4 linked regions of the Homo sapiens genome follow. The protein of the gene in region 4 interacts with the protein of the main gene of each other region in a biochemical or structural test. Each region holds a gene or a part of one and is shown on either strand. Other genes may lie near its edges.

Evidence for each region.
Region 1: the proteins of FEZ1 (region 4) and SAP30L form a complex in vitro, tested with the Homo sapiens proteins (one study listed by BioGRID).
Region 2: of the proteins of FEZ1 (region 4) and UBE4B, one has a biochemical effect on the other in vitro, tested with the Homo sapiens proteins (one study listed by BioGRID).
Region 3: the proteins of FEZ1 (region 4) and NEK1 form a complex in vitro, tested with the Homo sapiens proteins (one study listed by BioGRID).

Annotation. Positions count from the first base shown.
Region 1 is NC_000005.10:154,441,842-154,449,006, reverse strand, and holds the start of SAP30L (histone deacetylase complex subunit SAP30L), read right to left. Parts: upstream 3,011-7,165; 5' UTR 2,403-3,010; coding exon 2,202-2,402; intron 1-2,201.
Region 2 is NC_000001.11:10,035,954-10,042,980, reverse strand, and holds part of UBE4B (ubiquitin conjugation factor E4 B), read right to left. Parts: intron 1-7,027. UniProt on the Homo sapiens protein: Ubiquitin-protein ligase that probably functions as an E3 ligase in conjunction with specific E1 and E2 ligases. May also function as an E4 ligase mediating the assembly of polyubiquitin chains on substrates ubiquitinated by another E3 ubiquitin ligase.
Region 3 is NC_000004.12:169,392,568-169,399,594, forward strand, and holds the end of NEK1 (serine/threonine-protein kinase Nek1), read right to left. Parts: intron 1,957-7,027; coding exon 1,943-1,956; 3' UTR 242-1,942; downstream 1-241. UniProt on the Homo sapiens protein: Phosphorylates serines and threonines, but also appears to possess tyrosine kinase activity. Involved in DNA damage checkpoint control and for proper DNA damage repair.
Region 4 is NC_000011.10:125,458,253-125,465,279, forward strand, and holds part of FEZ1 (fasciculation and elongation protein zeta-1), read right to left. Parts: intron 5,319-7,027; coding exon 5,232-5,318; intron 2,415-5,231; coding exon 2,246-2,414; intron 1-2,245. UniProt on the Homo sapiens protein: May be involved in axonal outgrowth as component of the network of molecules that regulate cellular morphology and axon guidance machinery.

The sequences.
Region 1 (7,165 bases), on a different chromosome or scaffold from region 4:
TGGTAGCAAAGGCTCTAGTTTTTTTTTTTCCTTCACTTTCTGCAATAGCTAAAAATTCTTGTAACATACCAGTTACCTGGAATTGAATTCCTGCCCAAGCCTGTGAGAAAGAAATAGAATCCCTTTCAGAAATAATGACTCCACAACACCACCTTAAAACAAATTTTGAGTGATTCCACCTGGAAACCTTACTACCTCAGAAGTATTACATTTTGGGAACACTAATGCTAGGCTCAGGCTGCCCTTCTTCTAGACAGTGTGTGTGAAATGATCAGCATAGCTCAACACAGGTTTTCCAGTACAGTCAATGGGTAAATAAAAGGAGTCCCAGTTGCAGCAGCAAAATCATTCAGATGGGAAGGCATCCAGTGATCTAAAAGGACTGGAAGATTCTTTTAAGGACTGGAAATTATTATTATAAGCTGCTCAAGTAAAGCAGCTTCTAACAACCTACACGGAAGGTAGGCAGTGTTTCTAAGTGGATGAATTCATTGCCATAAGCATTTCACCTCAACGTGTGACCTAAGGAGGGATCACCTTGGTGTCTAGACCCTTGTTTGTTCTCAGATATTTCCATTCATGCATTCATTGATAGAGATTTGTAGTAAGAAAGCCATTAACTCTCTCCCAACCACTTAAAAATAGCACCTGTCCATGCAAGAGCTGCAACTGTATTATAATGATTAACTTAAAAATGGGGGTAGGAGGGAAGAGTCTGAAGAAAGGACAGGGGCTGGGCGCAGTGGCTCACGCCTGTAATCCCAGAACTTTGGGAGGCCTAGGCGGGTGGATCATTTGAGGTCAGGAGTTCAAGACCAGCCTGTCCAACATGGCGAAACCCTATCTCCATTAAAAATACAAAAATCAGCCAGGCATGGCGGCAAACGCCTGTAATCCCAGCTATTCAGGAGGCTGAGGCAGGAGAATCGCTTCAACCCGGGAGGCGGAGGTTGCAGTGAGTCGAGATCTTGCCACTGCACTCCAGCCTGGGTGACAGAGTGAGACTCCGTCTCAAAAAAAAAAAAAAAAAAAAAAAAGAAAAAGAAAAAAAAAAGAAAAGAAAAAGGACAGGGGAGATTTTTTATTTATTAGAGACTTAATGAAGACTTATGTATAGGGCTTGGAAGTAAATTAGATAATATCTTTAAGAAATTAACCAGCCTCTTAGGTGCTGTGTGTACCTGACACCCTCACTTCCTATCTCTGGGCCTGTTTCAACCCTAAAATCAGAGGGGAAACGTGCACTCCCTTTCAGTTTAACAAGCAGTCTCTGATTTCCTCCAACTGTGGAGAAATTCTGATTCTAGAAGAGAATGGATGTTAACCACCTAAGCTCTTAGCTAGTCTACCTGAATATTAAATATCCCCTTAACTCATTTCCAATTCCTAATCATGAAGCAATCACTTAAGGCTTGTAGCAACAGATGTCAAACTAAAAAGTTCTTAATTGGTTGACAATAGGCACAGCTTCAGAATTGTTAACTAGAAGTGGTGAAGTCACACGGGAGGAGTTTCCTATAATAAGCCACAAAGAGCAGGGCAATCCGATTTAAATTTAAATATCCACCCCCTTATTTCAAAAGAAACTACCACTAAGAAAATTGATTTCTTTTCTTCCCCCCTCCAGTCACATCGACTGCAAGAGCCATTTCTCAAGACCTGGCCTTGGCCTTATTTCTGCCACATCCTAGAAAAACCCATTCCCACAGCTGCCTGCGAAGCAGCTAGCTCGGTGACCCTCTGCTGATACCGAGGATGCGGGAGCCAGGGAAGTAACTGCCACCTTTCTCTGTCTGAAGGAATAACAGGGTTCCTAGAAGGAGAGAGAAGTTGGAAAAGAGCCGGGTATCTTCATCACTCCCCGCTCCGATTCTTGCTCCTTCAAGGGCCAACAAAACTAACCCACCTCTCCCTGCTCTAAAGTCTAAACCAATAAAACAAGTTGGAAACTGCTGTCCAATCTTTCCAGGCAGCAGGAGTCCTGAAGCCCCCGCCCCCATCCTCCCGGATCTGGGTAGAATCACAGTCAGAGCATGTCAGCGCTGGAGCGGCCTTTGAAATGCGGAGTCCAACTCAGTTCTGCAGAGCCGGGGCGGCGAGGCCCACGGCGGGGAGTGCCCGGGGAGTCCCGACTGGAGCCCAGGGCAGCGGACGGAGAGCTGGGGGCGCCGGGGCCCAGACGCGAGCGGGGGCGGACTCACGCTCTTGTCGATGTCCAGCTTGAGTTTCTTCTGCGAGATGCTCTTCTGGACCCTCTTGCTGAAGGAGGCGTTGCCCGCGGGCCGGACGCAGCGCTCGCCGTCCTCGATGAGGCAGCAGCTCTGGCCGTAGCCCGGGGCGGCGGCAGCTGGGGCGGCGGGGGGCCCTTCGCGGCTGTCCTCCTCCGTGCTGAAGCCGTTCATCTCCCCGCCCCGGGCCGGTCCCTCTGGGGGAGGGTCCCCGGTAGGCCACTCCGCGGCCGCGCTTGCCGCGGGGCAGGTCGCTGAGACCCCCGCAGCCGAGGGTCCCAGAGTCCGTCTCCAGCCCGGGCGCTGCCCTGCCCCGCGTCCGAGAGGCCCGGCTCCCTCGGCCCCCGGCCCTCCGCCTCCGGAAGCCCCCTTCCTCCCGGCTCGAGGCCCCGGGGTCGGCTCCCGCGGCTCGCAGGGCCCCGCCGGGGGTCACCCGGAGGAGCCTTCTGCCGGGGGCCCAGAACCGTAACCCTGCAGCGGGGGTGTCCGGGAGGGCGTCCCAGGAAACAGCCGCTCCCCAAGGACTCCGGGCCTGGGTTGCCAGGGGGTTTCGAAGGCCCCTGCCGGCTCCCGCCTTCTTTCGGCAGCGGGGCAAACTCGCTGCCGGGCAGCTCCCCCGGGGTGGCGCGGCCTCCTCGCGCGGGGCCCGGCCTCGAACCCGCGGCACCCGGGCCCCGCGGCTCGTCCGGCCCACTCCACCCCTGCAGCCACTCGGCTGCGCCCCGAGTCCCGCGGCAGCCCCTGGGCCGCCCGGCCGCCGCCCGCCGAACGCTCCGCACCACAACAGTTCGCTCCCCCCGCCCTTCGCGGGACAGCGGAAGTCCCGCCTTCACGCGACCATTGGTCTCATTTGCTCTCTGGGCGGGGCTGCCGCCGCCGCTGGCGCGTCCCATTGGGCGTCGCCGCCGCCAGTCTCCGGCGCCAGGCTACTTCCTGGACTCTGCTGGGATGGGTTCAAAGTAGAGAAAGTGGAAGAGGAAAGAGTTACCCCAGCGAGAACCGGGAACCGGGCTGCAGACTCTCCGGCCCGGGGGAGGGATGGTGAGCAGGGGCCTGGCTGGACCGAGGGCCAGACTCCAGGAACAGAGGAACACATTCGGGGACAGACAGTAGAGACGCGGACGGGGACGCTGAGGGACAGACTTGGAGGAGGGGCATATGAGGGGACCTAAAGAGGATAGAGGTGCTATCAGGAGAGGGGCGGACTAATAAAATGAAAGGGCCAGGGCCAGAGGACTCGCGGATCCGTGGGAGGAAGGGTGGGTGAAATAGGACGGAAAGCCAGTCATGGCGGGAAAGACAGAGGGACAACCCCATACAGATACGTGGAAAGACATGCGGAGGAGGTGATGGGGGGATCTTGCAAGGCAGTCGCAATATTGGGGGTAGCCGATACCTTCCAGAGTGTGGAGAGTGGGACTGGCTTGGACGGCGCGGAAAGAAAAGGAGAGGGGGAAAGGAGACCCCGAGGGGTTTGGGCGACCCCTCCACTGGGAAGAATGGGAAGTCCGAATGAGGTCTGGAGGGTGGACTAGGTGAGCCGCGGGCAAGAGAAAGGGCTTCAGGGGAGATGAAGTGAAGGCTGGGAGTGGGGCCCAGGGGCCAATCTCGGAATCTAGATGGGGAAGGGCTGCGGTGTCTTGGGCTCTCCCTGGAGCTCCAAGCTGTAGTTCTATTGCTTTGAGTCCCCGGGTCTACCGGCGAAGCGACTGCGCCCTGCCAAGACCCTGCGCTTGGTTTCGGCGCCCAGGGCACCACCTCCCCTCCAGGAGGGGCCGTAGGATATGCTCTGGTCCAGCACTTCAGTCATGCCACTCTCCAACTGCGCAGCATGGGGACTGATGAGGTCCGAAAGGCGATGGGACCAGCCCAGGGTCGTGTAATTATGTAGGGCTGGGCAGCGTTTTATGGGCAGGGAAGAGGGGAGGCTGTGTTAGGTGATAGGTAAGCAAGTGTTAGTACTAGAGGGCATAGAAGGAGCTTCGGGTTTGTGTCCTGTTGTAAAAGGGAAAGCTACCAGTTTCCATGTTTAGAAGCAGGTGGCTGGTGATCTTAAGTTTTGCTCAGTGGCCATAAATGCATTTGTAGCATCTGAACTGGTAATTTCACACGTGGGACAGCCATCGTCGGAAATAGGCCTATCAGAGATAATATGAAGTACAGTGATGTTCATTATGGAATTATTTATAATAGGAAAAATAAAATAGAACCTCAGAGTTCCAAAAGGGAAGTGGTTAAGTAAACTACCTAAAATCTTCAGAAAGAGATTGTGCAGTTAGCATTTGAGGTAGTTTCAACATCAATGTAAACATTTTCTATAGAGAATAATTCACCATTAATTCTTAAATAAAGAGCTGATGAGGAGTTGGAGAAATGCTTTTTTTATGATAAGTAAAAAAATTCAGGATATGAAATTGCATGGAGGATACGATGTCTGTACATCTATGTTTAAAGAAAAAAGAAAACTATTGGTATAAAAAATGCACCAAAGTACTAACAGTGATTATTTCTGGGTAGCAGGAATATGGCTGATATTTTTCTCCTTTTGTTTAACCTTTGCATTTTCTTTAATAAGCATTATTTTTGTTTTTACAGTAGAAAAAATAGAATAAAAATTAATGGAAAAAAGGCACAGATTAATAGGAGTCTTCCCTCAGAGTTCATATATTCTGTTCAAAAGTAAATTGTTGTTGAACTCATTATGTATACCAAGTATAGGGTTGGCTATAGGAGGAGGATGAAACATAACCCTTGCCCTAAAAGAATATCTCCTATCTGGGGTGTTCAGACATATATGTAGAAAACACTTGGGTATCTGTACCAGGCACTGTGTGATGTTGGGTCCAAAGTCAGTTGGTATGGATGAAACCTCCATGTTCCCCATATTTTTCTAAACAGCATTTGTATTCAATGCTAGGCTATTGCGGTACACAACTTCTTCTGCACCAACTTGCCCTGGTCTAAGGGGATCTAGGACCTTTTCTTAGGTGCTCTGTCTCAGTCCTTGAGGTAGTGGCTACTTATATCTGCTATTCTTGTATTATTTAGCATTCTTTTTTCTTTTTACTAGGCAGTTCCTTATAACTGTAGGGGACTACAGTCCCCTATTATAATTAATACATGTTTATATTATTATTTTCCTGTTCAAATTACTGTAAGGTTACTCTTTCCTGATTACACCCAGCCTGATACGCCCAGCCAGCCTCTGTGTGTGTGTGTGTGTGTGGTGGTGGTGGTGGGGGAGTTCATGCTTGTAACTGTTCTTTTTTTTTCTTTTTTCTTTTTTCTTTTGAGACAGAGTTTCACTCTGGTTGCCCAGGCTGGAGTGCAATGGCGCGATCTCGGCTCACCGCAACCTCTGCCTCCCGGATTCAAGCGATTCTCCTGCTTCAGCCTCCCGAGTAGCTGGGATTACAGGCATGTACCACTGCTCCCGGCTAATCTTGTATTTTTAGTAGAGATGGGGTTTCTCCATGTTGGTCCGGCTGGTCTCGGACTCCCAACCTCAGGTGATCTGCCCGCCTCGGCCTCCCAAAGTGCTGGGATTACGGGTGTGAGCCACCGCTCCCAGCCATTCTTTATGTATAATTTTGTAGTCTTTATTCAAGGCATACTTTATCATAATCTTTCCCCATATTGCTATGTAGTTTTCACAGTTGCCATTTTTTATGTAGTACAGTGCAGTTTCTGTAGTACAGTACACTGTGGTGCTAAAGACAGTTGGCTTTGCTGTCAGAACTGGGTTCAGATCTGGACTCCACCCATGACTTGTTATAACATGTTAGCAATTATTTCACTTCTTGAGTCTGATGAAATAGGTGGTGACAAATTCTTAACACAGTGCCTAGAACATCATAAGTGGTTAATAAATGTCAGCTATCATGATTCCTACCGTAGTTACATTTGCCCCCCCAGAAGTTGGATATCTTTTTTGTGTGGTTCTGTATAATTATTTTTGAACATAAAACTTTTTATTATTTAGGATTATTATTTTTTCTGAGTGCCAGAGATGGAATTGTGGTCAAAGACTACAAAGTTTTCCAAGGTCTAAGGGCCAGGCTCACTGACCCTTTTTTTCTTTCCTGTCTTTTCTGCCCCTGCCCTCCCCACCTTCATTCCTTCCATCCAGTCAGGCCCCAGTTGAGAAGTTATCCCCCAACACGCCTTAAAGAATCAGAGTTGGATACCTTGGCCAAGCAGTCACAGTCCTACAAAAGCTCTTTGCTCTCCTCTTTCTCTCCTCTTTTCCCTTTTTGGGGAATGTGGCATATGGCTCTGGGAGTGATTTCCAATGACTGCCCTTCTTTGGGAACAGGTGGACACTTAGGTGTCCAGTGACTGGGTTTCTAATCCTTGAGTGGCCCCTGATTGTCTAATAGTGAATACTTGCTGGGTTAAGCCTGTGGCTCAAACTGTACTGGTCAGTTTCTCTCCAGCAAATCTGCTGGTTGGAACTGACAGGTGGTTGGTGGGAGTGGTTAGAGCAGAGGCACTAATGGTGGGTCCTGCCTCCTGTGTTCCCCAGGGCCTGGTAGTTGAGCTTGCCCTTGGGTTCTGTAAGGTACTCATAGATATGTTGGCATGAACCAAAAGTATCTGAGACAGGTCTCAATTTAGAAGGTTTATATTGCCAAGGCTAAGGACGTGCACGTGACACAGCCTCAGGAGGTCCTGACTACATGTGCCCAAGGTGGTTGGGATACAGCTTGCTTTTATACATTTTAGGGAGACATGAGACATCAGTCAATATGTACAAGATGTACATTGGTTCCATCTGGAAAGGCAGGACAACTTGATGCTGGGGCTTCCAGGTCATAGATAGATAAGAGACAAATGGTTGCATTCTTTTGAGTCTTTGCTCAGCGTTTCACTGAATATACAATTTACATGTGGGGAAGGGGTGAGGTGGGTGGTAGAGGAATAGTCATTTATGCCTT
Region 2 (7,027 bases), on a different chromosome or scaffold from region 4:
ACTGTGCCCCTTGCACAGAAGGCTCTAACCATGCTTGGCATCCTTGCTATTCCTGGAACAGCTCAAGAATGAGTTTACCTCAAGGCCTTCTGAACCTGCTGTTCCCTTTACCTGGGAACATTCTTCCCCGAGCAAGCTCCCAGCCATCCCTGAAATTCTTTTCAAGACCACCTCCTCAAAGTGCACACGTTACACATATCTGATTGTTCTCTGTACCTGTAGGCCACAGAAATACTCTGTAACAATACTCCATCCCTAAGTATTTCTCTTCACAGCACTTCTCATCAAATGACACCTTATGTGAACATGTTTGTTTGTTTGTTTCTTTGCTTTTGAGACACAGTCTCACTCTGTCGCCCAGGCTAGAGTGCAGTGGTGCAATCTCAGCTCACTGTAACCCCTGCCTCCCGGGTTCAAGCTATTCTCCTGCCTCAGCCTCCTGAGTTGCTAGGATTACAGGCGTGCACCACCACGCCCGGCTAATTTTTGTATTTTTAGTAGAGACAGGGTTTCACCATGTTGGTCAGGCTGGTCTCGAACTCCTGACCTCGTGATCCACCCGCCTCAGCATCCCAAAGTGCTGGGATTACAGGCGTGAGCCACCACGCCCGGCCATGCTTGTTTTTTATCCCTCTCCTCCCACTAGGACGAAGCTCCATACAGCAACGTTTGTCTGTTATCAGGGATGCAGCTAGTCAACTGTAAGCGCTGTTGAATGAACCGTTTACAGGAAGACATTTCCACTAGATACTACAAGTGCCGTGTGAGAAAATGCACTTTGCACAGAGAAGTCTTTCTGCCTTCTTTCCCTACAAGAGCTTGGGGCTACTTGATGAGCTCCACTCTCAGCAATAACAAACGGGAATGAAAGTCCACTGGAGGGCTGGGCCTGGCGGCGGGCGCCTGTAATCCCAGATACTCGAGGGGCTGACCCAGGAGAATCGCTTGAATTCAGGAGTCAGAGGTTGTAGTGAGCCAAGATAGCACCACTGCACTCCAGCATCATGCCTGTAATCCCACAACTTTGGGAGGCTGAGGTGGGTGGATCATTTGAGGTCAGGAGTTTGAGACCAGCCTGGCCAACATGGTGAAACCCCTCTACTAAAAATACAAAAATTAGCCGGGCAGTAGTGGCATGTGCCTGTAACCCCAGCTACTCGGGAGGCTGAGGCAGGAGAATCACTTGAACTCGGGAGGCGGAGGTTGCAGTGAGCAGAGATCGTGCCACTGCACTCCAGCATGGGGACACAGCGAGGCTCTGTCTTAAAAAACAAACAAACAAACAAAAAGTCCACTGGGGCTTCCACTTCCTATCTCAGAAGGGACCGTAAGAATGCTATAAATGTGGCCGGGCACAGTCGTTCACGCTTGTAATCCCAGCACTTTGGAAGGCCGAGGCGGGGGGATCGCCTGAGGTCAGAAGTTCGAGACCAGCCTGGCCAACTTGGAGAAACCCCATCTCTACTAAAAATACAAAAATTAGCTGGGCATGCTGGCGGGAGCCTGTAATCAAAGCTACTTGGGAGGCTTAGGCAGGAGAATTGCTTGAACCCAGGAGGCAGAGGTTGCAGTGAGCCGAGATCAGGCCATTGCACTCAAGCCTGAGTGACGAGAGCGAAACTCCATCAAAAAAAAAAAAAAAAAAGAATGCCAAAAAGGTTACAGTTGGCTGAGGTTAAGTCTTGTTTTAGAGGTAGTAAAGCGATAGAAAACTCTGGAGTCAGAACCTGGATTAGAGTCCAGGTTCTACCACTTACTAGTTGTGTGCCTTTCAATAAATTAATTTCTATTAGCCTCCATTTTCTTATCTGTAAAACAGGGGATAAGGATGCCAACCTTGTGAAGCAAGTTTATATCCTTATTATCATTCTCTGTCTCTTGTCTACAATGAACAAAAGGAGAGGAAAGGGCCTGGCAGGATACATCCCACTGTCCTCCCAGGCTTAAGAAAGAGTCCTGGTTATAAAGTGAATGGTAGCAACTATCTTCTGAGGAAAAAAGGGACCTCAGGTCCTCAGGCCTGTTACAAGGGAAGAAATGGTCAAAGAGGTGGGGATGTTAGGCTGGGTGCGGTGGCTCACGCCGGTAATCCCAGCACTTTGGGAGGCTGAGGCAGGCAGATCACCTAAGGTCAAGAGTTTGAGACCCGCCAAGCCAACATGGAGAAATCCCGTCTCTAATAAAAATACAAAAAAATTAGCCAGGCATGGTGGTACATGCTTGTAATCCCAGCTACTCGGGAGGCTGAGGCAGGAGAATCGCTTGAACCTGGGAGGCAGAGGTTGCAGCGAGCTGAGATCGCGCCATTGCACTCCAGCCTGGGCAACAAGAGCGAAACTCCATCTCAAAAAAAAAAAAAGAAAAAAGAAGAAAGAAATGGAGATGTTAGAGCACCAAGGCCAGAGTGGGGGTCTACATGTGGACTCATCTTTTTGGTGGTCCAAAATTAAACTTGCAATCTCAGCACTCTGGGAGGCTGAGGTGGGCAGATCACTTGAGCCCAGGAGTTTGAGACCAGCCTGGGCAACATGGCAAGACCCTGTCTCTACAAAATATACAAAAATTAGCCGGAGGCCTGGCGTGGTAGCTGACACCTGTAATCCCAGCACTTTGGGAGGCCATGGCAGGCGGATCACCAAGGTCTGGAGTTCAAGACCAGCCTGGCCAATATGGTGAAACACCGTCTCTACTAAAAATTAAAAAATTAGCTGGGCATGGCTGGCAGCTACTTGGAAGGCTGAGGCAGGAGAATCACTTGAACCCAGGGGGCAGAGGTTGCAGTGAGCTGAGGTTGCGCCACTGCACTCCAGCCTGGGCGACAGAGGGAGACCCTGTCTCAAAAGACGAAAAAAAAAAAAAGAAACATGTGCTTTCTCCAAAATCTGCTGCTTCTCTGGAATTCCTTATTCAACCCTTATCTATCCTTCTCCATAGCTAGAAACCAAGGTGTCATTTCTCCATCTCTCCTCCCCTCCCCTCCTTCACAGCTAACTGATCATCAAAACTGGGTTAATCACAGTCCTTGGTATTTTTGGTGTCTGTCTGCTCCCCTCCATTCCCACAGGCAATGCCTTAGTTCCCTTGGACTCCACTGCCTCGCTCCTATACAGCAACAACAGCCTCCTAATATGTCTTGCAGTCTGCAGCCACCTTCTCCCAAACTACCCTTTACTCCCTTGCCACCCATCTTTCTAATCTCTTAAAATCCCTAAAAGGCATTTTACAGAGAAAGTTCAAACTCAGCCACGTGCAGTGGCTCACGCCTGTAATCCCAGCACTTTGGCAGGCAGAGGCAGGTGGGCCACTTGAGGTCAGGAGTTTGAAACCAGCCTAGTCAACATGGTAAAACCCCATCTTTACTAAAAATACAAAAAAAAAAAAAAATCAGCAGGGCATGGTGGCATGCACCTGTAATCCCAGCTACTTGGGAGGCTGAGGCAGGAGAATCACTTGAACCCGGGAACCAGAGGCTGCAGTGAGCCGAGATCATGCCACTTCACTCCAGCCTGGGCAACAGAGAGAGATTCTGTCCCAAAAAACAACAACAAAAAGAAAGTTCAAACTCCTAAACGTTTCTGACAGCCCTCCAAGATCAGGTACCTGCCACACACCCGAGGTAAAACCCACCTCTCCAGTCACACTACTTGCTGCTGTTTCTTGAGCTCCCCAATTTCGAGCCAGTTCCCAGGGCAACTGCTACTCAGCGTTAAGTATCACTTTTTCTTGAAAGTCTTCACTAAGACCCTGCCTCTCCCGGGGTCCCTTCTCATGTTTCTTAAGTGAGTTGTGCATACCTCCACCATAGCACCTGGCACTATTCTATAACTGTTGGATTCCTATCTATCTCCTCTACTCAAATTTAATTATAATTGCTTTTTTGTTTGTTTTTCTGTGTGTGTGTTTTTTTGTTTGTTTGTTTTTTTGATGGAGTCTTGCTCTGCCTCCCAGGCTAGAGTACAGTGGCGCAATCTCGGCTCACTGCAACCTCTGTCTCCTGAGTTTAAGCAATTCTCCTACTTCAGCCTCCTGAGTAGCTGGGATTACAGGTGCGTACCATCACACCCAGCAAATTTTTGTATTTTTAGTAGAGACGGGGTTTCACGTGATCCGCCTGCCTCGACCTCCCGAAGTGCTGGGATTACAGGCGTGAGCCACCGCGCCCGGCCCCAACTCCCAAATTTTTAACGCGACAGGCATTTAAAAAAAAAATTGGGAGTGGGAGGACCAGTACCAAAAGCCCTGATCACATCATGAATGCATTCATGCAAAACAGCACTTCTACAGAAAAACTATGTATATCAAAACAGAGTGGGTCAGTGTTACGTAGGATGTTGATACAAAAGCTGTGGTGAATTTATGTCAGTTGTTGAGCAGTAGAATAAAGAGGACTTTCGAGTCCAGAGCACTGGGTTTGAATTCCAACCCCATCACTTCTAAGCCAGGTCGCTATGGACAAGTTACTTAACCTGAATCCCAGTTTCCTGACTTGTAAAATTAGGAAAACAGTACCTGCTTGATTATAATGTTTTCTCTAATGAGAAACAGCTATCAAGTGCCTGGCACAGAAGAGGCTCCTAAGGCTGTTGTTTAATGTCAATTTTCTTCCACTTACAGAACCTTGCTAAAAAGTCCAAGGTCACATATTCTGCATTTGGAAAGGAATACTTAAAACACTTTCTAAATCTTTTTTTTTTTTTTTTGAGATGGAGTTTCACTCTTGTTGCCCAGGCTGGAGTGTAGTGGTGTGATCTCGGCCCACTGCAACCTCCGCCTCCCGGGTTCAAGCAATTCTCCTGCCTCAGCCTCCTGAGTACCTCGGATCACAGGCATGTGCCACCACGCCCAGCTAATTTTGTATTTTTAGTAGAGATGGGGTTTCTCCATGTTGGACAGGCTGGTCTTGAACTCCCGAACTCAGGTGATCCACCCACCTCGGCCTCCCAAAGCGCTGGGATTACAGGCGTGGGCCACTGCGCCCGGCCAACACTTTCTAAAATCTTGACCACACCCGGAATCCCAGCCAACCATCTTGCAGATGAACTAGGTCATAAAGAAGAGTTAGGAGAGAAAAATCACTTATGCAATCTCATTACCATTGTCGAAAAACAGTTTAAAACACCTACTTGGCTGGGCATGGTGGCTCATGCCTGTAATCTCAGCACTTTGGGAGGCCAAGGCGGGTGGATCACTTGAGCCCAGGAGTTTGAGACCAGCCTGGGCAACATGGTGAAACCCTGTCTCTAGAAAAAAATACAAAAATTGGCCAGGTGTGGTGGCATGAGCCTGTAGTCTCAGCTTGGGAGGCTGAGGTGGGAGGATCACTTGAGCCCAGGAGGCAGAGGTTGCAGTGAGCCAAGATCATGCCATTGCATTCCAGACTGGGCGATAGAGCCAGACCCTATCTCAAAAATAAACACACCACCTACTCACAGCACCACCTTGAGATACGAAAAACAACACATGAGTAGATTATAGAATTAATATAATGTAAATAATGATGCCTTGGAATGTAGGTTCCTGAAGAGAATGAACTTAGTCATGGTTCTGCAATGAACCTATAGGCAGTGAACTATAGGGCAATGAACTCACTGTAATACACTATATAAATAACAAACAACAGTGAAGTTAAAGTACTCTACTTAAAAGCACAAGACTACCGGGCACAGTGGCTCATGCCTGTAATCCCAGCACTTTGGGAGGCCGAGGCAGGCAGATCACCTGAGGTCAGGAGTTCAAGACCAGCCTGACCAACATGGAGAAACCCCGTCGCTACTAAAAATACAAAATTAGCCGGGTATGGTGGCGCATGCCTGTAATTCCAGCTACTTGGGAGGCTGACGCAGGAAAATCGCTTGAACCCGGGAGGCAGAGGTTGCAATGAGCCAAGATCGCGCCATTGCACTCCAGCCTGGGCAACAAGAGCGAAACTCTGTCTCACAAAAAAATTTAAAAAGCACAAGAATTCTAGGTGATCTATGACAGGGACCAAAAAGTGCACATAATTTAAAAGTTCCTAAAGCTACCAGTCTGGTTATACCAGCCTTTTTCACGGACTGTATAATCATACATTTTCATTTTGTTAAAATATGAAACTCTGCCTTACCTAATTTCCTAAATTAGATTAAAAGATCACCGCCTTGCCTGTTTTAACCCTGAAATATAAGCTTGAAGTTTCAATAATATAAGTGTATTATTTTGTAATCAAATCAATGTCACCTACCATATCTGACACAAGTTTTCAACTACAGAGTAACAATACAAAGGCAAAAGCTTTGGAAATGTCTCATGAGAACTGCTTACCTAACCTCAAAAATTTTTAATTGAATTAAAAAGAAAAACTTCAAAGATATTTTTCCCAAAATAACTATTTGTCTGGCTCCCACTTTGGGAGGCTGAAGTGGGAGGATCGCTTGAGGTCAGGAGTTTGAGACCATCCTGGGAAACATGGCAAGACCCCCGTCTCTACAAAAAAAAAAAAGATTTTTTAAATTAAAAACAAACGAATATTATTTGTTCTAGGTTCTGCTGAGAGTAAAATTAACAGTTATTGAACCAGCCCTTTGTGTTCTGGACAACTAATTTGTTGAAGATAATTTTACATTGATCCTGTATTAGTGAATTTAATTTTTTTCATTTATTTTAATATTCTGTTGACCTTGAAAAAAGTTTATTCTATTTCTTCCACAAAGGTTACATGTGTTCCTCATATGGTCACAAAAAAAAGTTACACCTTCCTCAAGGACTGATGAAAGTGAAGAGACACATTTTAGATTATACAATATCTTCACTGGTCTGTAATGCCTCACTGGTTTGAAAAGAATTTTTTGGTGAAAACTCAAGTATGCAAAAGCCTCTAAACCAAGGACTATTAACAGATCATCAAAAAAAAAAAAAAAAAGTAATTTATAGGAGTAAAGGACTACTAAAAAACTACCTCGGCCGGGCGCGGTGGCTCACACCTGTAATCCCAGCACTTTGGAAGGCCGAGGCGGGCGGATCACGAGGTCAGGAGATTGAGACCATCCTG
Region 3 (7,027 bases), on a different chromosome or scaffold from region 4:
GGGGTTTCACCATCTTGGCCAGGCTGGTCTTGAACTCCTGACCTCATGATTCACCTGCCTCGGCCTCCCAAATTCCTATCAAATTTATTCTTTTTGGTTCTCTGGGGGAGATAAGAATGTGCAACTAATAACAGTGTAAGACCTAGAAACTGCTCTGACCCTGACCCTTTACACAAGTGACTTAATTTCATGTTCAATATCCTTGCATGTTAAATGCAGAAAAGACAAAGTTATCCTGATAGCCCATTTAATGCTAACATTTATTAATCTACAGATGCTTCCACATGTCAATTCCAACACTTATAATAGACCTTACTGAAAAATAGCCCTTTTCCTCACTGGCATAATCTTTCCATAACAACACTCCAGAGTCACACACTGCTAATCGACTGGAGATGGCACAAATCTTATTGATCATCCTTATTCCTGCACATATATAACATCTTTTGAAATATGGCTAAAACAATTTTTTTCTACCATATTATACCCTTTTCTAATAGTTGTAATAGTTTAAGAATTAATACACAACCTCCCCAAAATCATGCCCATCTTTCAGGATTGTAAAGAATTAAAATATTGAATTCATTTTCTTCCATTATGAAGAAAGAAATCATCAGGTACAAAACCAACAAAAGTATTATCAGCTTGATGTAAAAGCCTTCTATTGAGAAAAGTAAAATAATAAATAAAAGACAATTGATATACTTCAGGTAGATAATAAAAATTTAATAGCAATATCATAAAATAAACACACATATTAAAAAATCAAGTATTTAGTTTCGGATATTAGAAATAATATACATAATAAATTCAACATACTGATAGTGCTGCAAGATAAGATTTTATTTTTCAAATTACATATTATGCCAACCAGCCTGCTTTGGACTCAGAGGTTCAAAAACTTTGCTTTTATTACGAAGAACATCTGGACTGTAGACACCTCTAACGAAACCAGGTTATACTTGGCATATTGTGATTGAAGCTGTGTGATCAACATCTTAATGACCTAACTAAATCCTCTCATAACAGAAAGAAGTTCAACAGGCAAACATTTCCCTCCCTAGGATCCTAGTTACCAAAACTGTCACAGTGTCAAAATAAAAATAATTATTTCCTCCTTTTTAACATCTTATTGTCCTTGAAGCTTATGTATGGAGGAAGTTAAAAACCAAAAGAGCAACTTTAAGCTATATGCTAAGTCAGTGTTAAATCCACAGACTAATTTTTCGATATAGTATTCCTGGTTCTGGTCCTTAAAGAGAAATAAAGGCATTAAACCAACTTTTTATATGTCAAGAAATATAATTTTGCTATTCTTTCATAATCAAATCTTTCAATGATTTCTAAGACTGTTTCTACAGCCTGTGTGCTAGTTCAGGAGACACACTGATTGTAAAAGGACTTGAGAATATAAACTTTAAGGCTAAAAATTTCATCTTCAAAATGTATAGATGTAAACAGAGCCCTTGACAAGGTGATTTAATGTAGAACTGCTGGCCAGAATGAAAACAAGTACTAGACAGAAAAAAGATCATGCTTAAAGACTCCATTGAAAAACCACAGACAGGTCCTTCATGACATAGGTAATTCCTTCAACCTAAAGACATTTGCTGAAACTCAAAGTTACCCTATTGCATAGTAAATCTTCAAAACCATTAAGTCAGGTTCTGGGTCAATGTTTCCTATGCTTTGGTTGGATGATTTAATAAAGTATATATTTTATGAGATTTAACCATGGAATTCAATGAACAAAATAGATAAAATATTAGAATCTTCACTGAAAAATGGCATGTTTCTCCATCTTTTTCATGCAATAAGAAAGTCCATCTTAAATCTGATTTTTTAAATAAATAATTGCTGTATTTCCCACTGAAGCTTGTTATTCTGATAAGCCAAATTCAAATGCTTTCATATAGTTGAGGATTAAAAAACATTTTGAGGATTATTCATCATTATCTGTAGAAAAAAGAAAAAAATTGACTTCATTTCAAATCAAGCTGTATCTACTTTAAAAAAAACCCATTCTTGTTCATGCTAAAGGAGAAGAGCTTTAATGTAGTTTTAAACATACTTTTAAAATTATTTTATCACACATTCCTTGTAAAATATTCAGACAATACAATGAAGAATAAAATGGGAAGCAAAAATCATCTGTAAGTGAAAGACAACCAATGTTAACTTTATATAAATCCTCCCACAATGCTTTCCTATGCATACACAAATATCTTTTAAAAATTACACTAAAATGCAGTTTTGAAACATAGGTTTTCCACTGAAAACACCCTAGTGAATGGAAAGGTGGATACATAAGTGATAATGTAAGATTAGAAAATGCTAATGTTAGAATCTAGGTGGTGGGTGCATGGGTGATCACTGTAAAGTTCTTTCAGATTTTCAATATGATAAAAATTTGACAATAAAATGTTAAAGAATAAATCATGGATATATTCTATGTTGACTTCAATGTCTGCAGAGTATTCTGTTTAATGGATATGACATAACTAACCATTACTATTTATAGACATTTTTGTTATTTTCAATTTTTTTAATTCTAAAGATTATAATCAAGTGAATTAAACAGACTGGTTAACTTAATCTTATATGCAAGCACTATCTTCCACATTCTAGCAAAAGTGATCTTTCATTAAAATCCAAGGGTCATGTCAAATCACTGCACTGCTTAAAACATTTGTTAGCTCCCTGCTGCCTCAAAATGGAATCCACGCTCCTTAACGTGGATTACAAAGCCCTTCATGATCTGGCCTTTTAAATATTTCTCATCTTACCAAATTTCATTCCCCACCTTCCTTAACTGCCCCTATAATTTATGCTTTAGGAACACTGAATTGCTTATAGTTTCCCTACTACATTTTGCATACTTCCATGTATGAGTACTTATTTGCATTAAATTCCCATTTGTCTTTCAGAATCCAACTTTGATGTCCTCTCCCCTAGGAAGACCTATCCTGTCACCATCAATGTAGTTGGATCATTACTTTATAACTTACATACATTTTATTGCTTCCAAGGTAACACTTATCACTGGACTATAATTTACTTACTTTTCAAATAATCAGGAAAGTAATGAACACACATATCCATAATATGTAGAATTAACAAAAGCTAACTTTTGGCCATAGTGGTTTGGATTATTTAAGTAAAACCATATTACAGATGCAGAGTACCCTTTCTCAATCTTACTGCCTTCCTTTCTTCCCCAGGGGCATTTTCAGTACTCTGAAATTGATGTGTATTCTTCCCGCTCATGGTTTTTGCTTTTATTTTTATTACGTACATGCACATCTAAATAAAATTGTTTAGAAACACTACATAAATGGTGTAATATTCTACTTATTCAACTCATCATGTTTGTGGGGCTTATCCATATTGACAGTCGGAATTTAATTCATTCATTTTAGCCGATGTATACAATTTCATTACATAAACGCAGCCCAATATTCCACCTAAAATGAATATGAAGAGAAGGTATGTGTCTCTTTCTTAAGAGTCTATAATGGCCAGGCATAGTGGCTCATGCCTGTAATCCCAGCACTTTGGGAGACCGAGGCAGACAGATCACCTGAGGTCAGGAGTTTGAGACCAGCCTGGCCAACATGGTGAAACCCTGTCTCTACTAAAAATACAAAAATTAGCTGGGTGTGGTGGCACATGCCTGTAATGCCAGCTACTTGGGAGGGTGAGACAGGAGAATTGCTTGAACCTGGGAGGCAGAGGTTGCAGTGAGCCGAGATCATGTCACTGTACTCCAGCCTGGGCGACAGAGCAAGACTCCATCTCAAAAAAAAAAAAAAAAAAAAAAAAAAAAAAAGAAGAATCTATAAACTTGGGCCGCTAATGCTAATACTCAATGTGAGAACATGGTAGCCTCTGCCAGGTTGCCACTGGCCACAGCTGTTATACTCCTCTCCTTGTGGAAGAATTTATTAGGAATACTATCAAATCGCTTACACATTTTATTAGCTCTATTTGACTTCTGACTCTGGATAGTATCTAGCTATGGAAAAAAAAGCATTAACTTTATCAACGGCTGAAGATATTGACGCTTACCAAACCTGCACCATAACAGTATCAGGAGAGTTAAATAGCTGAGGCTGTCTTTTCAGGACTTATATAATTTCCAGTGAAATAAAACAGAAATGTGTTTTTGACAATCTTCTTTTTAACTTGTATCTTAATGACTTGATGTCACTTTCGGGTGAGCGAGATAAAATTTTGCTTACCCCTTCCCTTCTTTACTCTCCCTTTTCCCCAACACAGAAAATAAAAGTGTGTAAGTACCATATGTAGATGACATGGCTTTACCATCTCCTAGATGTGGCCTAAAAGATAGCTGTCTGGACAACTATCTCTAAGACAGGTAGGCTGGGTGCGGTGGGTCACACCTGTAATCCTAACACTTTGGGAAGCTGAGGTGGGAGGACAGCTTCAGGCCAGGAGTTTGAGATCAACATGGCGAAATGCCATCTCTGCCAAAAAAATACAAAAATGAGTCAGGCATGGTAGCTCACGCCAGTAGTACCAGTTACTCAGGAGGCTGAAGTGGGAGGACTGCTTGAGCCCAGGAGGCGGAGGTTGCAGTGAGTTGAGATCATGCCACTGCACTCCAACCTGGGTGACAGAGCAAGGCCCTGTCTCCATAGAAAAAAAAAAATCCCAACAAAAAACTCCCCAAATCAAAAAGAACAGCTATATATGGGCTCTACTGACTTCCAATAAGAAGGAGTGCAAAACGGTTATTCTGAATCAATGAATATGAAATCTATATCTAGTCATTTCATTTAACTCTCATGATTAACAATACAAAACAGCAAGTCATCCACATAATTCAATATCCATTTTATAACCAGTTTCTTTAGTAGCTATAGTAGCAAGTTACAATATTTTATGGGCTGTACTCAATTTTTTTTTAAGCTACACCTGCTGTAATGGTATGTACTAAGAGTTTTAGAAAAGATTGCCAGGGTAGGCATCTTCAATTGCTTTACATTTTTTCTAGGGTGAAGGAATTACTGTCAGGCTTTATGATACAGAACTCTGGGGTTCTCTTTCCCTTTCCATTTGTGTACTAGAGAAAATCTGATATTGCTTCCTGAGTGGTGTATTAACCTAGCCTGATTCTTGGTCCTTTGCAGGGGAAATGGCCTTCTGTGTAGGCTTATATCCTTTTGAAGCCACTCAGTTGTCAAAAGAGGGTGTCAATTCTACCTTGTGAATAAGTTGATTGTTACAGCTCTCCACTTAAGGGGCAAGGCAAACTAAAAGCTCTCCAGATACTTGTTGAGCAAAACTGAACCCCAAGCACATTGTTGCTGATTACTTATGAAAAGCTCTATTGAAACAATACTTAAGGAGAACCGCCTGGAGGTGGAATAGTCTGAATATGAATAGAATTGGTTTGATACACTCTACAGAATTACTGAAATGGAATCATCCTCTGGCTTCGTGCCATTAACTTACAGCATGACATATGAGAAACAGCCTCATGAAATCTAAATATTGTAAAAATTACTGAGGATACTTTTCATTCCATTATAGCACTGTTTTGTAAAATGAAGTCCAAGGTCTCAATAAAATAAGAAATCCACAAGTACCAGAAAATGTTTACCTTTTATATTTTCATTTTGATAAAATTTTTTAATATTTAGAAAAATACAACATGTTTTACAGTAATAATTCACAACTAACAGAAATTTTCTACCACTAAGACTTGAGTTTTTTTTTTTTTACTGGGGTTTATAGACCCTTGGATTCTCATGCCTGAAAAAAATACTTTTTGCTCCTTAAAGGGATCCACATGTTATTCAAGTTTGAGGAACACTGTATGATAGTGCCCTCTTTTTAAAGATCATGGGAAAATTGTTCCTTTGGTTTCAATACCAAAAATAGCTGTCCTCTGAGCAACTAAAATGTTTTGTCTCATGAATACTGTGACTCATGTAATTAATTAGGTTTTCTGCTTTGTGAGAAAGACCAGCACCAAATTTGTTTCCTGTTTTTAGAAAATGTGGAAACCTTTTGAACATGAAGTTTGTATTCTTCATTCCTGGCTTCATGTTATACTGCTTGTGCTCATTTGTCCAATTTGTTGACTTCCCCAAACTTTTTTTTAAAACTTAATTTTCTCTCTTACTATATACATATATATATTTCAATGCAATCTTAGACTTTTTTGTATGAATATGCAAACACATTTTGTATGGAATACAAATACATTTTATAAACATTTTTATTGCTAAAATTAAGCATCAACATTTAAAACCCTCAATTTTAGTCTATGAATTTAACATTTAAAGTAATAAAATTAATGTTTGGGCAAATAATCTAGAAATAAATTCTTGTTCAAAATTTTACATATTGCTTTTTGTGTCTACAAGTTTTGCCAGGTGCAGTGGCTCACACCTGTAATCCCAGCACTTTGGGAGGCCAAGGAGGGGTGAATCATTTGAGGTCAGGAGTTCGAGGCCAGCCTGGCCAACATGGTGAGACCCCATCTCTACTAAAAATACAAAAATTGGCCAGGCATGGTAGCACCTGTAGGCCAAGCTACTCAGGAGGCTGAGGCAGGAGAATCACTTGAACCCAGGAGGCAGAGGTTGCAGTGAGCTGAGACTGTGCCACTGCACTCTAGCCTGGACAACAGAGCAAGACTCCATCTCACACACACAAAAAACGTTTAATACCACATCCTTGATAAGAACTATTCTAGGGCCAGGCGCAGTGGCTCACATTTGTAATCCCAGCACTTTGGGAGGCTGAGGTGTGTGGATCATCTGAGATCAGGAGTTCAAGACCAGCCTGGCCAACATGGTGAAACCCTGTCTCTACTAAAAATACAAAAAGTAGTCAGGTGTGGTGGCGCACGCCTATAATCCCAGCTATTTGGGAGGCTGAGGCAGGAGAATCACTTGAGCCCAGGGGGTGGAGGTTGCAATGAGCCGAGATCACGACACTGCACTCCAGCCTGGGCAATAAGACTCTGTCTCAAAAAAAACAAAAAAAAATGAAT
Region 4 (7,027 bases):
TCTAAGTTCCCATCTCCCCATGGGTGGATCAACTCCTAGGATGGGGCCCCTTCTGCAGCGTGGGCATTTGATACCCTACGGCTGGTGAATTGTTCTGCCTTTGCTGTGTTACACTTTTTCATTTCATGCTTCATCCAGCCGTTTCTTGTGCACAGTCATAATTACTATAAACCTGTGTCAGAGAGTTAAGAGGATGGCCTCTGGAGTTAACCTACCTGGCTTCAAATGTTAGCTTCACCCCTTATGGCTTCTGCATGGACTAAGCACAAATACAAATTTTAAATGAGAGGCTTGATTCTCCCCGTTGAAAATAAGGGAAGAGACTTTTCCTCTCCCCCACCTCCCTTTTCTTTCAGAATTTCTTCTACCTATCCTTTTCAATCTCTCAAAGATTTAGATTAAATCTTTAAAATAAACATATGTTACATTTACATTAAATTATTGTCATGGCTAAAATAAGCCTCTTGTCATTCTTATAATTCAGGAGGCTTTCTTCAAGGGCCTGGAGGTTACTGCTTTGAAATATAATCATCGGGCCGGGCGCAGTGGGTCATGCCTGTAATCCCAGCACTTTGGGAGGCCGAGGCAGTCGGATCACGAGGTCAAGAGTTCGAGACCACCTTGGCCAACATGTGAAACCTCATCTCTACTAAGAATATAAAAATTAGCCAGGCGTAGTGGTGCATGCCTGTAATCCCAGCTACTCGGGAGGATGAGGCAGGAGAACTGCTTGAACCTGGGAGGCGGAGGTTGCAGTGAGCAGAGATCATGCCACTGCACTCCAGCCTGGGCAACAGAGCAAGACTCTGTCTCAAAAAAAAGAAGGAAAGAAAGAAAAGAAAAAGAAACATAATCATCTCTCATTGTTCTGAGCAGAGGGGCCTAACTCCCTTCCGACTCCAAATTGCAAAACCTACTCAATGTAATGGGTTCCATTCATCCACTTAGCTACACAAGAGTGAGACTGCTTTCTGTCTTTGCAGTCTCTTCAGAGAGTTGTCTGTGATGTGGCTCCCATCCTGGTTTAGTGCTTATTCAATAATAAAATAGTTTTCTAGGCCGGGCATGGTGGCTCACACCTGTAATCCCAGCACTTTGGGAGACCGAGGCAGGCGGATAACCTGAGGTCAGGAGTTTGAGAACAGCCTGGCCAACGTGGAGAAACCCCATCTCTACTAAAAACACAAAAAGTAGCTGGGCATGGTGATGCATGCCTGTAATCCCGGCTACTCAGGGGGCTGAGGCAGGAGAATCGCGTGAAGCTGGGAGGCAGAGGCTGCAGTGAGCCAAGATCATGCCACTGCACTCTAGCCTGGGCGACAGAGCGAGATTCTATCTCTAAAAAATAAATAAATAAATAAAAATAGTAACAAAATAGTTTTCTTTCTCACCTGTCTTTGTGGAGAGGTTTTCTGAACAGGAAGGAAATCTCATTTCTAATCATATTTCCCTAACAGTGGCCTTGGACAAGTCATGTAACCTCTGAAAGACTCGGTTAGCTTGATCCAAATGGGGTTGGTGTGAAGATGAAATGAGATTAGGCATAGGAAGTCTTAGAATAAGGCCAGGCGCAGTGGCTCACACTTGTAATCCCAGCACTTTGGGAGGCTGAGGCAGGCAGATCACTTGAGGCCAGGAGTTTGAGACCAGCCTTGCCAACATGGCGAAACCTCGTCTCTACAAAAATACACAAATTAGCAGGGCGTGGTGGCACGTGCCTGTAGTCCCAACTACTCAGGAGGCTGAGGCTTGAGAATCACTTCAACCTGGGAGGTGGAGGTTGCAGTGAGCTAAGACCATGCCGCTACACTCCAGCCTGGGTGACAGACAGAGAGAGACTCTGTCTCAAAAAAAAAAGAAAGAAAGTCTTAGAATAAGGTCTGGCACATAGAAAGCACTTCAGAAATATGAGCTGTTACTATTACCTTTTTTATTCATTGATTTTATGGTAGCATCATTCATTGCTTTTATATAGTAGTTCAGATTTCTTCTGCTTATTCTGCCTTAGTCTTGTTCTTTGGTTAGTTTTAACATTTAAATTTTGCTCGACTACCTTGTTCTTTTCTCAAAAATGCAAACTTCTCTCCTGATGCCGAGTAAGAAAGGTATTGCTGACCACCTAGATCTGCAAGGCTCTGCTCTGAGGCAGTCAGGGTTCTATTAGCCATGTACAAAGCACACAGCCCAGAGCCTGGCCCCGAGCAGGTGCTTCCTCCTCGGCCAGCCCAGCGCCCAGGGCCCTCACCTTCATAGGACCAGTTGTTGTTGAAGGTCTGTGTCAATGCCTGCATCTCCTGCAGGAGGACCGAGTCTGCCTGGGAGGAAGTTTCTCCTCCATCCTCTTCTTCCAGAACCTCCTCTTCTTCCTCAGGGTCTGGGGAGTTCTGCATCATTTCCTCAATCTCCTCAATTACCTGAAGAAGGTACACGAGAGAGTGCTAACTCTGTTCTCTGCTAGAGGGGCATTCTGGCTTGAATTTTGATCAGTTAAGGATGTTCCTAATTAGCTATCTGAAAATTTCTAAAGCAATATTGTTTTTACATAAATACTGAATAATAAAAATAGTTCCAACCAAAGGCTTGCATACACTCTTTCTTTAATGTAAGGCACTCTTTAATGTAAAACCTCTTCCAAGAGCTCCTTTTAGATAAATGACTTATTGGAAATAAGCTGCTCTTTCAGGAAGCAAGGCAGAGCTGCCTGGAAGGGAACATTTACTTCAATGTGCTGAGCTATTTCTAAGTGGGAAAATATTTCATTCACCCAACTTTAACACAAAACCCAGTCCATTAATTGACATAATACACGTGACTGTAAAAAATAGCGTGCTCCTAGAACAACACAAAATGGGGAGGAAAACAACTATTTCTCCAGAATTCACCTAGACAGGAACTGAAGCTGCCCAGCAACAAATGAAAATAGAGATAATGAAATAATAGAAGGATAGGTGGAGTCTAGAGAGCAGCAAATAGATAAGAACCCCAGCTCTAATCTAGACTATTGACAGGAGCCAGCTCCCAGAAGTGGAGGGAAAATTAGATATCTGCCAAAAGGAACAAAAGTGAATTACTAGCTGGGCATGGTGTCTCATGCCTGTAATCCCAGCACTTTGGGAAGCCGAGGCAGGTGGATCACTTGAGCTCAGGAGTTCAAGACCAGCCTGAGCAACATGGCGAAACCCCATCTCTGCAAAAAGCAGAAAAATTAGCCAGTTGTGGTGACGTGTGTCTGTAGTCCATGTTACTTGGGAGGTTGAGGTGGGAGGATGGCTTGAGCCCAAGAGGTAGAGGTTGCAGTGAACCGAGACTGGGCCACTGGACTCCAGCCTGGGCAATAGAGCCAGATCCTGTTTCAACAACAACAACAAAAAAAAGAGTGACTTACTTTGTACATTAATTATTTACAAATAAAGAAGACTGCTGCTGAAAGCAGGTCTTTAGATGAGTTTTGTCCCAACCTTCACCTTTGTCTGTTCTCCATGGATGGACTAAAGTCCCCGAGGCCAGCATTGTACTCTTTGAGGTGGTTTCTTCACAGTGGGCTGGACCAAAGGTAAGGGGTTTCAGGGTCTCCTCCTTTAGAATAATTTCCATTCTTATTCCCAAACCTTTTCACCTCTACTCACAAACTTAGGAAATACCCAGTCTTTGACTACTGAAAGCCATTTTACAGAATGCAACCAAATGACACAAGTCCCTGTCAGGGTCTTATGGCTGAATGTCCTTTTCTCTAAGAGGAGTTATAATTGAGTTCATATCATTGAATTGTAGATCCTCCTACAAGTCACAAGAATAGCTATTAGCCCCTATTTTTAAAAATCTGGTTCTCTTCAGTCTCCTAATCCTCACGTGTTTCAATTCCCACCTTTCTATCACAGATATGAAAAAGCACCATTGCTGCTAAAAAAGCACTTTCTGGCACCGAAGGCTGCCAGTGGAGCTTTGCAGAAAGACTTTGTGGAAACTTATGTAGTGTTTAGCTCAAAATAAGCACCCATAAATATTTGTTGACTAAAACATTAAATAAGGAATCCAGAAACTGAACATTATCCTCTCTAAGTAATAAATTATTAAAGCTATGATGATCTCAATTGAATGCGAAGCACTCTATCTTTTTTCACAAAGTCGAAGTGGCTCTAAGACTCCTTTCGGAAGGCCCAAAATTTTGAGTGTTCTATGAAATGTAAGAAAATATCCATCACACAAAAGCCTCATCTGTCACTTCTCTTTTTGGGAAAACAGGTATTTGGGACCCTTGTTTGAGTGTCTTGACTCCGAGTACAACGAATTTCAATAAGAAGGCTTAGCAGGATTGTAGCTACTAAACACTATGCCTGTCTCTGGCTCCTATCAGAGACTGACCCCAACTATCCCAAGTGTCAAGAATGACATTCATGTTCACTGCAGGTGGGCAACCTGAGGCAGAAAGAGAGATGAAATCCCTTATCAAAAATACTCTGAGTTGGACAGTCACCGTGGCTCATGCCTGTAATCCCAGCACTTTGGGAGGCCAAGGCGGGTGGACTGCTTGAGTCCAGGAGTTTGAGACCAGCCTGGGCAGCATGGTGAAACCTCATCTCCACTAAAAGTACAGAAAATTAGCTGGGCATAGTGATGCATGCCTGTAGTCCCAGCTACTTAGGGGCCTGAGGCGGGAGGATCGCTTGAGCCAAGGAGGTTGAGGCTATAGTGAACCCTGATTTTGCCACTGCACTCTGGCCTGGGTGACAAAGTGAGACCCTGTCTCAAAATGAAAAAAAAAAAAGGTCAGGCACAGTGGCTCATGCCTATAATCCCAGCACTTTGGGAGGTTGAGGTGGGCAGATCACTTGAGGTTAGGAGTTTGAGACCAGCCTGGCCAACATGGTGAAATCACATCTCTACCAAAAAATTTTTTATAAGAATTAGCCAGGCATGGTGGTGCATGCCTGTAGTCCCAGCTACTCGGGAGGCTGAGGCAGGAAAGTCACTTGAATCCGGGAGGCAGAGGTTGCAATGAGCCAAGATCACGCCACTGCACTCCAGCCTGGGCAACAGAGCAAGACTCTGTCTCAAAAGTATATATATATAAAGAAAAAAAAGAAACAAAAAATACTCTGAGTCATGAGCACAGGCACCACATGACCACATATCTTTCTTCTGCCTTAAATGGATGTGGCAAGTGTGTTCTCTTGGACTTTTTCTCCATCAAAAGAACAAAAGGTCCCGATAACCTGGAGAGATACTTATACCTGATCTGCTGTGAGCAGAGGCTCCTCGTTGATACCGGAATCATTTTCACTCTTCTCATTGAACTCTTCCTCTTCTTTCTCATGGATCTGGAGAGGAGGTGGGGAGATGGAATTCTGGGTGACCATCAGCAGAAGTGGGATTGCCTCTAGTCTCGAGAATGGATGATACTGACTGGGAGGCCACTCCAGCCAGCTGCTGTCTAAACAGTGGAGCTGAAGAGGTGTCCAGAGTTTCATCCAATTCCAAACATATCTTTGCCCCATCACTAACTCCAGCATGCCAGAAATCCAGCATGCAGCACTGAATCCAACTTGGCAGGAAAAGACGACAGGGGAATGGCCAGCACCATTCTGACTCAAAGGGGACAGCACCGTTTTTTAACCCACAGACAGGTCATCCTGGGGTGAACAAGGCGCCTTCTCCAGGTAAGTGACACTGCAGCCAACTGCAGCAAAGGTGCCCTGATTTTGTTAAGGAGTTCCAACCTGGGGGGTTGTTTCCAGATTTCGTCTTACTAGGCATTTTAAGGAATAGGTTGTTCTAGTCCAAATAATGATGACTTTCAGAATTTGATGAAATGCCATCCTGTTACTGGAATCCAGGCATGATGTCATAGCTGATGGCAGATGTAAGAAATCTGCATGGGACATGCCACTGAATAACCTGACCACATGAACTAAACAACAACAAAACTACAAAAGAGAACCCCATTTATCTCATTTGCCCTGTGTCTCTATAATTCCATAATCCCAAGTAAGATCCTCAAAGTTCACAGCCATCAAAATTCTAGATGTTTAAATCTAACAAGCTATTCAAAGCATATCTGGCTTAACTGACCATATCCCAAACTGCCATAGTCTGGCATTTACATTCAAGTCCCACAGAAAAGTTAATCACTAAACACCTAACAAGCTGTATGTCTAGAAGTCTGATTTGAACGTCATACAAGGAGGAGGCAGGAGGTGTCTCTAGGAAATCTCTCTGCTGAGTCACCTCTCATCCAGGAATGAATCCTCCTTGCGCTCCAGTAGCTGGCACACCGATTGGCCCCTTCCCTGGGGCTTGTATTCTGCCTTTTCTAACAGGAAACAGCCCAGCTCCAATCCAAGCAATAATGTCAGAGGTAGTCTATCCTCAGAAACTTCTCCCGTCTTCTGTGAGCTTTGCCTTGGCAGACATCCCTAACAGAGCACATCACCTTTTATCTCCATTTGCTTAAAACCAGGACTATGTCATTAAAAAAGAAAAAAAAAATTAAGCAAATATATCTCAAATGCCATCCGCACTCAACCTAGATATGGGGTAGGACAGGGAGGTAATGGAATCATCTGAAGGGCCCGGGTACCAGATGGTGACATCTATTTCCGCTGTCAAACCCATATGCTCCTCTCTCTGCCAAGTCCACCACCTGCGATAGCCTCGTGGTTTCCACCGCTCCCCACTATGCAGAACAAAACTCCTGGAGCTACGCTTTGTTCACAACTACACTCATATGGAAGAACTTTCTTCAGGCCAGAAAATCCTGCAGTAGAAGTTAGCCCAAAATTAAGAGAACGAAGATACATTTTTTCCTCCAGACAAAAATTAGGGGAGAAAAAGGAAGAAATGTATCAATATGAACCCAGCCCAAGTTAGTGTGAGCCCAAGTTAGGCTCATCCTGGGAAACAGGGTTATTTTTCATAAGCATCTAACAGCAACTGTTAGTCTATAACCAGGATTTGGCAGGGGGTAGGGGGTGGTGGGCACTAAGTCTATATAAAAATGGCATGTTTACCTTTTCTGAAATGTGGCTGA